Linked DNA regions of Homo sapiens: regions 1 and 2 are each linked to region 3. The links come from fine-mapping of genetic effects on gene expression. A gene starts in region 3. Each other region holds a variant in brackets. All regions are shown on one strand. Distances are from middle to middle. Region 1 overlaps KIAA0319. Region 2 holds the start of LOC124901277 (a long non-coding RNA gene). Region 3 holds the start of KIAA0319.

Region 1 (4,245 bases), 54 kb before region 3:
CCTCTCCAGGCTGGAATCACATGCCAATTCTTCCCTTCACTATTCAGTAATCCACCCACAACCTCCACCACAGAACTACTCACTAAGTCATCAGGACACAAGGTCCTCTCTGACAAACCCCTCCAAAGAAAAATCAATCCTCTATGGAAGCCACTGAGCACCAGCATCACCCATTTCAGCCTTCAAGTTAACCTGGGCCTCGTCAGCAAAAGTTTCAAATGGCTCTTGTTTCTATGTTCTCTACTCATTTACTTTAAAACAACTTGTTTTAGGTGATTTCTCTAGTCTTGTCCACAGGAAAACACAGTTGCAAAAAATGTCCTTTATCCTCTACAAGTTTGATCTTGATTTATTTTTCCTAGATACCCTGTTCAATGGCACTATTTTATGCATAGTACTGTTATGAACATTCATGTACAAGTTTCTATATGGACATGTTTTCTTTCTCTTGTGTAAATACCCAGAAGTGGAATTCCTGGGTCATATGGTTAAGTCTGCATTTAACATTTTGAGGAAATGCAAGACTGTCTTCCGAAGCAGCTACACTGGGGCCAGGCATAATTGCTCACACCTGTAATCCCAGCATTTTAGGAGGCCAAAGCAGGAGGATTCTTTAAGCCCAGGAGTTTGAGACCAGGCTGGGCAACAGAGTGAGACTCTATCTCTACAAAAATAAAAATAAAAAAAATTAGCTGGGCACTGTGGTCCCAGCTACTCAAGAGGCTGAGGTGAGAGAATCACTGGAGCCCAGGAGTTTAAGGATGCAGTAAGCCATGCTGCACCGTGGCATTTTGACCTGGGTGTGGAACAAGACCCTGTCTCTCAAAAAACGAAAATCAAAAACAAACCAAAGTGGCTGCAACATCTCACATTCCCACCAGCAGTGTATGAGAGTTCCAATTTCTCTGCATCCTTACTAACACTTATTATCTATTTTTAGATTTTATTCTAGCCATCTAGTAGATGTGAAGTGGTATCTCATTGTGGTTTTGACTTGCATTTCCCTAAAGATTAATGGTGCTGAGCATCTTTTCATGTGCTTCTTGGCTATTCTTCTATGATCTTTGGAGAAAGTCTATTCAGATCCTTTGCCCATGTTTGAGTTGGGTTATTTGTCTTTTAATTATTAAGTTGTAAGAGTTATTTATATATTCAGTATACAATATTTATGGTATATTTATCCCATTTTATGGTATATTTATTCCATCAAGAAAGCTTTACTCTTTTGATGTTGTCATCTGAAATACAAAAGTTTCTACTTTTTATTAATTCAAATTTACCATTTTTCTATTTTATTGCTATGCTTTTGATGTACTAAGAAATAATTGCCTAAGTTTACAAAGATTTATGCTGAGTTTTCTTCCATGTCTCTTATAGTTTTAACTCATATATTGAGAACGTTGGTCCATTTTGAGTTAATTTTTTTAAAATAAGGTATGAGATAGGGGTCTAAATTCATTCTTTTGCATGTAAATATCCAGTTGTCCTAACACCATTTGTTGAAAATACTATTCTTTCCCCATTAAATTTTCTAGATACCTTTACCAAATACAATTGAACTATTTTACATATTTTTTTGGTGAGAGAAAAGATCTTAGTTTCTGTCATCAATTCCAAACTTTGCACTGCATCAGAATGAAATAGTTTCTTTTCTTTCTTTCTTTTTGTTTTAAGAGATGGGGTCTCACTCTGTTGCCCAGGCTGGTCTCTCACCCGTAGCCTCAAGCAGTTCTCCTACCTCCATCTCCCAAGTAGCTGGGATTACAGTTGTGCATCAGTGTATTGGGCTTGAGCAAATGACTTCTTATTATGCTATGCATGTAATTTTTGTGAACACTTATTCAGAGATTGTCTACAAATCTAATGTACTTCAGAGGAAAATTTGCATTTCAATGGAAAGCAGCATGTTATCGGTGGGGCAAGGTGGCTCACATATGTAATCCTAGCATTTTGGGAGGCCAAGGCAGGCAGATCACTTGAGCTCAGGAGTTTGAGACCAACCTGGGCAACATAGCGAAATCCCATCTCTACCAAAAACATAAAAATTAGCCGGGTGTGGTGGCACATGCCTGTAGTCCCAGCTACCTTGTGGGGCTGAGTTGGGAGGACTGCCTGAGCCCAGGAGGTCAAGGCTGCAGTGAGCTGAGATCACGCTGCTCCACTCCAGCCTC[G/A]GTGACAAAGTGAGACCCTGTCTCAAAAAATTAAAATAAGATAAAAATAAATAAAAAAAAACATTATCTACTGGATACCTCTCCAGGTTATCTGCCTCTAGTCATTCTTGTATTTGAGCTATTTTTACAACTCTGTAAGTTATAGGTCATAAAAATGATAAAAATGTAAAATAATTCTTGTCTATAGACATGTAAATTCTCCTGTCTGCTAGAGCTTCAACTGAACTCCCTCCTTTCCTCACTGGAAACCCAGTTTTGCCTCTGTTTGCACACTCATTTCAATATATTTTTTAACCTATGAATGTGCCTGTTCTTCAGGTTTTCTTGTAGGATAATTATAATCTAGTTCCTTCAGTGAGTAATGAGTAGAATAAAATCTCTAACACGTGTTCATTTTATATCTAAACAATTCACAATTTCACCTATTTGAATAATTATCTTTTTTTTTTTTTTTTTTTTTTTTGAGATAGAGTCTCGCCCTGTCACCCAGGCTGGAGTGCAGTGGTGCGATCTCGGCTCATTGCAAGCTGCACCTCCCGGGTTCACGCCATTCTCCTGCCTCAGCCTCCCGAGTAGCTGGGAAGCTGGGACTACAGGCACATACCGCCACGCCTGGCTAATTTTTTGTATTTTTTAGTAGAGATGGGGTTTCACCATGTTAGCCAGGATGGTCTCAATTTCCTGACCTCGTGATCCACCCACCTCGGCCTCCCAAAGTGCTGGGATTACAGGCATGAGACACTGCTCCCGGCCCTGAATAATTATCTTTTAACAAAACCAACCTCAAAGAACTAATGAGCCAAAAGATTTTTAATAGAGCTTGATTTCAGAGAGTTCCATCTGTATAAACCAGGAAGTAAATGACTTGGCAACATGAAAGAGAGTAAATTATTTTAATATTTACTGATATGAATAAAGAACATGGTTAATCTCTAATACTTTCAGATTATTTTTAATTGAAAGTTTTTTCAGGCCAGGTGCAGTGGCTCATGCCTGTAATCCCAGCACTTTGGGAGGCCGAGGCAGGTGGATCATGAGGTCAGGAATTCAAAACCAGTCTGACCAATATGGTGAAACCCCATCTCTACTAAAAATACAAAAATTAGCTGGGCGTGGTGGCAGATGCCTGTAATCTCAGCTACTCAGGAGTCTGAGGCAGGAGAATCACTTGAACCTGGGCAGCGGAGGTTGCAGTAAGCCAAGACCATGCCACTGCACTCCAGCCTGGGTGACAGAGTGAGACTCTGTCTCAAAAAAAAAAAAAAAAAAAAAAAAAAAAAAAAAAAAAAAAAAAAAGAAAGTTTTTTCATTTTAATCCAATTATAAGTAAGGAAAAATATAGACACTTCAAAATTCAGAAAAATATAAGCAGAAAAAAACCTTCTGATTCAATCTTGGCTGGGCACGGTGGCTCATGCCTGTAATCCCAACACTTTGGGAGGCCGAGGTGGGGGTATCATTTGAGGTCAGGAGTTCGAAGCCAGCCTGGCCAACATAGTGAAAACCCATCTCTACTAAAAAATACAAAAATTAGCCGGGCATGGTGGTGCACACCTATAGTCCCAGCTACTTGGAAGGCTGAGGCAGGAGAATCGCTTGAACCCAGGAGGCAGAGGTTGCAGTAAGCCGAGATCATGCCACTGTACTCCAGCCTGGGCGACAGAGCAAGACTCTGTCTCACAAAAAAAAAACAACAAAAAAAAAAAACACTTAAAAATGACTTCTAGACATTTTTAAACAATTTTTCATGGTTGAGATTATAATGTATAGTCAATTCAATTCAGCATTCCTCACTTATTCTAACATAAGTACTGGAATCTAAAGAAGGAAAACTTTTCCTTTAAAAAATTCTTGAAGTACTCCAAGCTTTTTTTTTACTTTATTTCCACCTATACTCAGCTTCCTCTGATCAACATGCTCACCACATTCTCAAGTCCTGACCAGTTTCCAAACAAGCAACCTCTGAGCTCTCCAACTACTCTCTCCTCACCACACAGTTCTCATTGTCTGTCTCCCTGACCTCCTGCCATTAACACTTAGGCTTTCCACCTGCTTTTGAAATCGCTCCACTGCA
Region 2 (4,245 bases), 110 kb before region 3:
GTGTTTTAATTACCTGTGTGCAGCTATTTTAAATAGCATTTTACTTGAATAATATGTATGTTGTCATTGTTTCATGCTATACTTTGTGGGATAAAACTTGGGAATGAGTGTGGTAAGAAATTTATAAAGTTTTGCTTTTAAAACGTGGACATAACTCATTTTTCTAGTTTTTGACAATTGTGTGTTTTAGTGTCTAGTCTGCAGAGAGCTGTGTGATTAATAAACGTGGAATTAACAGAATTTCCTCTCCCTGTATTAAGGTGTCTGGTTGTGCTTTTTTCCCCCTACTTGGTGATCTTTTGAGTTTTTATTGGATGATATTAGACCAGTTTGCATTTGTGTAAATAGCACTCCCTCCCCCAGAGAGCCGTAATCAGTGAGTGCCTTGGGGAAGGAGCCAGCATGTGAAATGATGTGCCCTAAAACCCAGAGAAGGGCCTGTCCATGGTGTGCGCTTATAGAATGTTTGCTAAGCTGAACTGAGAATTTACCTGGTTTGCAGAGGTGGCGGTCACAGAAAGGTGTATAGGCCAGCCGTCACAGATTGGCCTATCTCTCTCTCCTACACGCCCCACTGTTATGACTTCCTGGGCTCAAACAAGCCTCTCACCTCTGCCTCCTGAGTAGCTGGGACCACAGGCACCTGCTACCACACTCAGTTAATTTTTCTTTCATTTTTTGAACAGTCAGGGTCTCACTGTGTTGCCCAGACTGGTCTCAAACTCCTGGGTTCAAGCCACCCTCCCGCCTCAGCCTCCCAAAGTGCTGGGATTATGGGAGTGCACCATTGTAGCCAGCCCTCACCATAATTTAGAACACAGACAGCACTGCTGCCCAGTGGTTAGTGGACATTTTTGCAAATGTCGTCTCACATTTTACAATCACGTATTGCTCGACAACAGAGATATATTCTGAGAAATGCGTCATTAGGCAGTTTCGTCCTTGTACGAACACTGTAGAGTACTTACACAAACCTGGATGGTACAGCCTCCTACACAGCTAGGCTATACGGTCTAGCCTATTGCTCCTAGGGCTACAAACCTGCACAGCATGCTACTGTACTAAATACTGTAGGCAGTTGTAAGACAATGGCAAGTATTTATGTATATAAACATAGAAAAGGTACAGTAAAAATCAAGTATAAAAGATTTAAAAATTACACTTGTAAAAGGCACTTACCGTGAATGGAGCTTGCAGAACTGGAAGTTGCTCTGGGTGAGTCAGTGAGTGACAGTGAATGTGAAGGCCTAAGGTATGACTGCACACTACTCTAGACTTTACAAACACTCTACACTTAGGCTACACTACATTTATTAAATAATATTTTTCTTTCTTCAATAATAAATTACCCTTAGCTTACTGTAACTTTTTACTTTATAAATTTTTAAAATTTTTTAACTTTTTGACTCTTTTGTGATCACACTTAGCACTTAAAGCACAAACTAATTGCACAACTGTATAAAAATATATTCTTTTTTTATATCCTTGTTCCACAAGCTTTTTTATATTTTAAATTTTTTTAAACTTTTTTGTTAAAAACTAAGACACAATTACACACATTAGCCTAGGCCTACAAAGGGTCAGATTCATGGATATTTCTATCTCCCACCTCCTCATCTTGCCCCGCTGGAAGGTCTTCAGGGGCAATAACACGCAGGGACAGCTGGGCCCAGTGGCTCACGCCTGTAATCCTAGCACTTCAGGAGTCCAGGGCAGGCGGATCGCTTGAGCCCAGGAATTTAAGACCAGCCTGGGCAACACGGCGAAACCCTGTCTCTACAAAAAATACAAAAATTAGCCAGGTGTGGTGGCACGTGCCTGTCGTCCCAGCTACTCAGGAGGCTGAGGCAGGAGGATCGCTTGAACCCGGGAAGTCAAGGCTGCAGTGAGCCGTGACCGCACCACTGTACTCCAGCCTGGGTGACAAGGTGAGACCCTGACTCAAAAAAGAAAAAAAC[G/A]TGGAGCTAGGATAACAAGACCTACCTGAGGTTCTTAGGAGATGTCATGCATCAGAAATATGTCCATGGTGGTTTGCTTGCTTTCCTTTTTCATCATAGATTTGCTTGTAAGCAGACAGTGCATAAAGAACATTCCTCTCTGTTAATGAAACCCTTTTGGTGTTGAGGGGCCCATGTTTTCAGAATTTTTAAGGCGCTTACTGAGGTCTGCAAAAACTTCTCAGCTCTTCACTGTGAATTTTCATGGGGATTCTTTTTCTTCTGCAGTTTTTTCTTCCTTGCCTCTTCTTGAGGTATGTGTTCCTGTTCCAGTTCCAACAACTCCTCATTAGTCAGTTCCTCAGGAACCACCTGTAGGAGCTCCTCAATGTCTTCTTCTTCCACCCCCAGGTTAAAATTGTTTGCCATCTCAACCACAGCCTTGTTGGTTTTTGCAACCTCCTTGTCCTTGGCAAATCCTTTGAAATCACGGATGAACCTCTTGAGTGTCTTCTTCCAGATGTCATTTATACGTTCCTTGGTAACATCACCCCAAGCCCAAGCAAGGGTCCTGATGGAGTCGTAGATGTAATCCTTTCAGAATTGCATCAGCGTCTTCTCCGTGTCTTCCTTTGTTGCAGTAATAACCTGAGCAAAGCTGCTCCTCCTCAGGCAGTGGGCCTTAAAAGCTGCTGTAACTCCTTTACCCATTGGTTGGTAATCCTTAATCTCTTGTTTCAAGATCAGTCACTTGATGTGGCCTCTTACTGGCAACAATAGCCGTGGATTTTCTATGACAAAGGGACCGTGATGAACAAAGCAACACGAGATTAATTGAAGCACAAGAGAAAATAATGCAATCAAGAGGCACAGTAAACAAGACACGTTTATACTGCTGGTATAACCCAGTATTTCTTTTGTTTTGTTTTGTTTTGTTTTTGAGACAGGGTCTCACTCTGTAATTTAGGCTGGAGTGCACCGGCACCATCACAGCTCACTGCAGCCTTGACCTCCTGGGCTCAAGAGATCCTCCTACCCCAGCCTCCTGAGTAGCTGAGACTACAGGCATTCGCCACCACACCCAGCTAACTTTTAAACATGTTTTTTATAGAGATGGAGTCTCACCATGTTGTCCAGGCTGGTCTCAAACTCCTGGGCTCAAGCAATCCTCCAGCCTCAGCCTCCCAAAGTGCTGGGGTTACAGGAGTGGGCTACTGCACCCAGCCACATACTGTTTTACAATAAACTGTTTTTAATAAGTAGAAGGAGTACACTGTAAAATAACAATGAAAAGTACAGTATAATAAATACGTAAACCAGTAGCATAGTCACTTATTATATACTGTACATAATTGTATGTGCTATACTCTTATACAACTGAGAATGCAGGTTTGTTTACACCAGCATCACCACAAACATGATTAATGCATTGGGCTGCATTGGACTTTATGATGGCTACGACATCACTAGGTGACAGGAACTTTTCAGCTCCATTATCTCATGGGTCCATAAATCATATATGCAGTCCATCACTGACAGAAATTTCACTATGCCAGGCATGACCGTATAAGCCTATGTGCTCTCTTCCTGCTGCAATAAAGTCTCAGTCCTGCAACTCTGGGTTCATCATCTTTAGGAGAATGGAGGTGATAATACTCTCCATGTAGGCTTCAAATAAAGGAAGCTTTGCTGCTTGCTAATCTCAACTCAACAAGAGAGGCTCTAGGGACCAATTAGTTGGAGAAATGGTGACTTTGTTTCTTTTTTTTTTTTTCCTTTCTTAACTTTGTTCCTGATTTTAATGGAAATGCTTATTTTACTGTTGATATGTGGATCTGGCCTTTCCTTCTCAACATCTTTAAACTTTTAATTTTGAAATAATTATAAATTCATAGGAAGTTGCAAAGATAATGCAGAGTCCCGTGTACCCTTCACCCAGTGGTTCGCTTATTACCTATGTAATACAATTATCAAAACCAGGAAACTGATACCAGTGCAAAACTGTTAATCCAGGCCTTATTCCAATTTCACTCGTTTTTATGTGCACTCATTTGTATGTGAGTGTTTGTACACCTCTACCTAATTTGATCACATCAATAGTTAGATTTGTGTAGGCAGCACCTGAATCAAGATACAGAACTGTTTCATCTCTACCTAGGAAATCCCTGGCAGTACCTCTTCATAAATGACTTTGAAAGTAACTTGGCAAGATTGGTAGCTTTTTTAAACTTTCCTTTCACTATTATATACATGCAAAAAAAAAGGATACATAATTGAATAAGTGAATCGCTCAATGAATTCTCAGAAG
Region 3 (4,245 bases):
CTTAACTCTTGTTTATATCAATTAGCCTGTGGTAAAATTGGTTTCCTTATACCTCGTTGTGCTTAAAGGTTCACAGTTTCCAAGAACGTATCAAGAATGTTAAGTGAGGACTTACTGTATTTATTTAAAGAGAATGCTTCCTATCTATTGGCTAGGGAAAAAAAAAAAGTCAAGAAAATTTAACAGCAACTCTATTCTTTTACATTCATACATTACCAAAGCTCTCTTTTGGCTATTTTTAATTCATAAAGATTTTGGCTGAATTATTTTCATTATTTCGAAACAAAAATTAAGTTCTTGCCTCGGCATTTTGCATTACAAATGCAAATGCATTACAAATGGTTAATACAAATAAATCAGAGTACTTAGGTAATATGTTTACATTTCCCTTTTTCAAATTACAGAGGAATTCACCTTTCTCTGTGACTCCTACGTCTATAACTGAACTGACACCTCCAGTTTTCCTCATCTGAATTAAAAATAATACTAAAAAAAGCACAAAATAAAAGTTTAGATTTGGCATAACTTTAGTAGTCTCTACAATTGTGGTCTTCTTATAATAAATTGAAGCATTTGGAAAGTGAGCATGTATTTCAGGAATAAAGAAATAAATACCAACATTTACTTCCAAAATTCTTGTGTGTGGGGGGGAACATTGTCTACAATTTATTTTTTCTGTTACTATCAAAAACATCATTCAACTTTTCAATTCAAGCAGTGGAAAAAATACTAACATTTCACCGACAAACAAAAATGTTTTGATGAACAAACCAGCAATAAAAGTGCACATGAGTATGTATATCATATTTTTCCTCCTTGTATTTAATTAACAAATGACCTTAAGATGATAACTCTCAAAATTTCAGGTTTATCCTCCCGATTAATTTGTGACATTCCTTGGAGGGAATTCAAAGGGAAGAAGAGAAAGATTTTAAGCTTCAGGTTATGGTAAGGAACAGAGACAAAATGCATTTAGCAAATAATAGGAAAGATCACATAAATAGTTCTGAATGAAGTTTAAAGAAAACGATTCCTTACTTCTAAAAAAATGCAATTCGTGAGGTTGGGAAAAGACACTCAAATTTCCCCGACTCCACCCTACTAGTCAACAATCAGTGCAGCAATCAAAAAATGCCCTTTCCTGAATGCCCAGAAGAATCTTAAGAAACTCACCTTCTGAACTCAGGGCGTCTCGATTCTACTTTTGTTGGGTATTGGCCTGCCTACTGGCTGCCCTCTTTCCTATTTCTCGGCCAGGCGCTCTGGGAAGTAGATACCGTACCTGTGGTCACTGCTGGCGACACTGAAGCTCGCCCCATGCGTTGCTGCTGGCCCTGAGCATCACTCGCCGTCCCACTTGTTCCTCCTCGTCGTCATCGCAGGTCTTACACACACACACACACACACACACACACACACACACACACACACACACGTTCACACCCTCGCGCGCGCACCTGCTGTTAAGAGGTACAGCCCCACCCCAGCAAAATCCTCGCTTCCTCTTCCCCGGGACGTAGCCCCAGAGGAGCGAATCTGGACCAAGCCCAAGACAGGCTGAAGCTACTGCTGCGCTCTCACCTCCGGCAGTGACAGCGAGCGCCGCCGCCGCTCTGCGCGGGGCCAGCCAGGCCCGCCGAGGGCAGCACAGGTGGAGCAAGGTTGCACCCCCGGGGGATCCCCGCCCACCGCCCGCGGCAGCTTCTGCAGGCTCGGGGAAAGCGCGCGCCAGTGATTCAGCGCCTTTCCGCCGCCGCGGTTACCACGGCGACGCGCGCGCACGCGCACACACGCCCTCAGGGATGTGGGGCGCGGCAGCCGCCCCTGCCCAGCTCCCCTGCTCAGCTCCCCTGCTCAGCTCCCCGGTTGCGCTCTAAGTACCCGCACCGGGGCGACACACTCCCACCCCGCAGGGGACCAAGCAAAAGTCTTTCGTGAACCTGAGCGGCCTTCATACCCTACCTGCTTTCCTTCACCAAGCCCTTCCCTGTCACCGTGGCCCTAAACAGTCTGGGGGATGAACACTCCTTCCAAATAAACACCCGGGCCAGGGTGGCTCAAGGGAGCCGTGGGTGCACTGCCTGGGTCAAACACCCTTCGCGAATGTGTCCCCCAGCTTGTCCCCAGCTTGTGTCACCCCAGCTACACAAGTTCCATTCTTCCAGTGGGAGTCTCTTTGGCCCCTACTCTGTAATTATCTTTCTATTTTGAGCAGGTGCTTTCTGACTGAGACTGGGAACCTGTGCTAGGAGGGGCTCCCATCACCTCCAGGCCTTGCAGGTTAACTGGATGCCCAGTATAGTTTGACATTTGCATCTTGAGGAACGTGATAATCTAAACCACAGAAAACTTGGGTGGAAGACTCTTGCATTTTTACTGTTTTAATAAAGATGCGAAAGCATCTAGGGATAATATCATGAGCAGAAAAGGTAGCCAGGGCATTCCTCGCACATCTCATTACTAGGAGGTATAAGTGCAGTGCTTAGGGCTGAGTCACACACTGTTGATGAATAAGCTTCTTGGCTACTCGTATTTACCGAAGAGCCTCAGACAAGTTACCTAATCTAGATAAACCTGTTTCCTCAATTATAAAATGAAGATAATAGCATTCATATAGGATGATTCTGGGAATCAAATAAGATAATGCACATTTAAAGAGTAAAAACCAGCTGGGTGCGGTGGCTCACGCCTGTAATCCTAGCACTTTGGCAGGCCGAGGCGGGCGGATCACGAGGTCAGGAGATCGAGACCATTCTGGCTAACACGGTGAAACCCCCGTCTCTACTAAAAATACAAAAAATTAACCGGGAGTGGTGGCCCGCGCCTGTAGTTCCAGCTACTTGAGAGGCTGAGGCAGGAGAATCGCTTGAATCCAGGAGGCGGAGGTTGCAGTGAGCCGAGATCGTGCCACTGCACTCCAGCCTGGGCGACAGAGCAAGACTCCGTCTCAAAATAAATAAATAAATAAATAAATAAATAAATAAATAAATAAATAAATAAATAAAAACTAAAGAGTAAAAACCTGTCCAGGACTCAAAGAGTGAAAATCAGCTTGGACTTGGAAAAGTTAGTACTGCCAATGATCAATGATCAGGCTGAGAGGACAAAGTCAGAAGCAAAATTAACAGGCAATGTTGTTTCCTCTGAAGTCACGCAGCAGGTACAAAACAACACAACTCCTTGTGTTCCATTTTTGAATGACTACTACTTTCTACCTTTGCTTTACTATTCCCATCCATAACTGGGGATACCCAATTGCTAAACTCCCTTCACCTCCTGACAGCACCCAATCCCTCATTAATCCCCCTTTCTCTCAATCTGCCTCAGAAACAGCAACCAACTGGATCCCAGCTCTGATTCCAAGACTCTCCCTGGAATCCTTTAATAGGAAGCCAAATCTTTACAAAAGACACTTCCTCCTTTCTGTGCTCACATGGCATTCCACAGGTACTCTTTCAATGCATCAAGCCAATGAATCTGATTTTGTCCCCAACGATCCTTGGCTGATTAGCCTTTAAAGAAACATATTTTTAGCACATACACACACACACAGGCTTAGCCCAGAATGTTTAACTATACCATCTTTTTAACTCAGAGACACTGTAATGAATATCTATTTTCATTTTTAATGAATATATCTATTTTGGTATTGTATGAAAATGTTAGTCTCCTTCTTTAGGACACAGATGTGAGGCTACTACCTTTCACTTCTTTTCAGCATTCAGTGGACATCCATTGAGCTCCTACTATATGCCAGACACTGCAAGAGGTAGTAAGGATAAAATGATGTATCCTTAGTATAATTAACTTTGTCTGCTCTTGCTTATGCTTTTGGTTGGGACATTTGTACAATAAAAGATAACTTATTTTGAGGGTGGGTAAAACTGAGGTTTAGGAAGGTTAAAGTACATTCCACATCAGTGGTAAAAATGGTGCTTAGCGTAATGACAGTGCTGCCTCATTGAAATACAAGACTTTAGGCCACGTACAGTGGCTCATGCCTATAATCCCAGCACTTTGTGGGCGAGGCAGGAGGATTGAGTGAGCCCCGGAGTTCGAGGCCAGCCTGGGCAACATAGCAAGATCCTCTCTGTACAAAAAACAAAAACAAATAAAAAGTAGCTGGGTGTGTGGTGCACACCTGTAATCCCAGCTACCCAAGAGTCTGAGGCTAGAGGATCACTTGTGCCCAGGAGGTTGAGACTGAAAAAAAAAAAAAAAAAAACCCAGAAGATTCTATGTTGG

Evidence for each region. PIP is the estimated chance that this variant, and not a neighbour inherited with it, causes the effect. A credible set is the group of variants that fine-mapping cannot tell apart.
Region 1: its variant is the best candidate, but not a certain one, in a credible set for the expression of KIAA0319 in putamen (GTEx, PIP 0.77).
Region 2: its variant is the best candidate, but not a certain one, in a credible set for the expression of KIAA0319 in cerebral cortex (GTEx, PIP 0.52).

What each region holds. Positions count from the first base shown.
Region 1 is chr6:24,590,777-24,595,021 of GRCh38, forward strand. The region is part of intron 3 of KIAA0319; the gene reads right to left. Among named protein-coding and RNA genes, the nearest start is that of KIAA0319, 53 kb to the right of the region's middle. The variant G/A (reference allele first, on the strand shown) is at 2,172.
Region 2 is chr6:24,536,953-24,541,197 of GRCh38, forward strand. It overlaps ALDH5A1 (aldehyde dehydrogenase 5 family member A1), which reads left to right. Exons shown (of 10, transcript NM_001080.3): 10 at 1-255. It overlaps LOC124901277 (a long non-coding RNA gene), which reads right to left and starts at 3,100. Exons shown (of 2, transcript XR_007059507.1): 1 at 3,063-3,100; 2 at 1-2,728. It also overlaps a transcript of KIAA0319 not described here. RefSeq lists an enhancer at 1,615-2,814. The variant G/A (reference allele first, on the strand shown) is at 1,959.
Region 3 is chr6:24,644,454-24,648,698 of GRCh38, forward strand. It overlaps KIAA0319, which reads right to left and starts at 1,738. Exons shown (of 21, transcript NM_014809.4): 1 at 1,283-1,738. RefSeq lists a silencer at 1,583-1,792.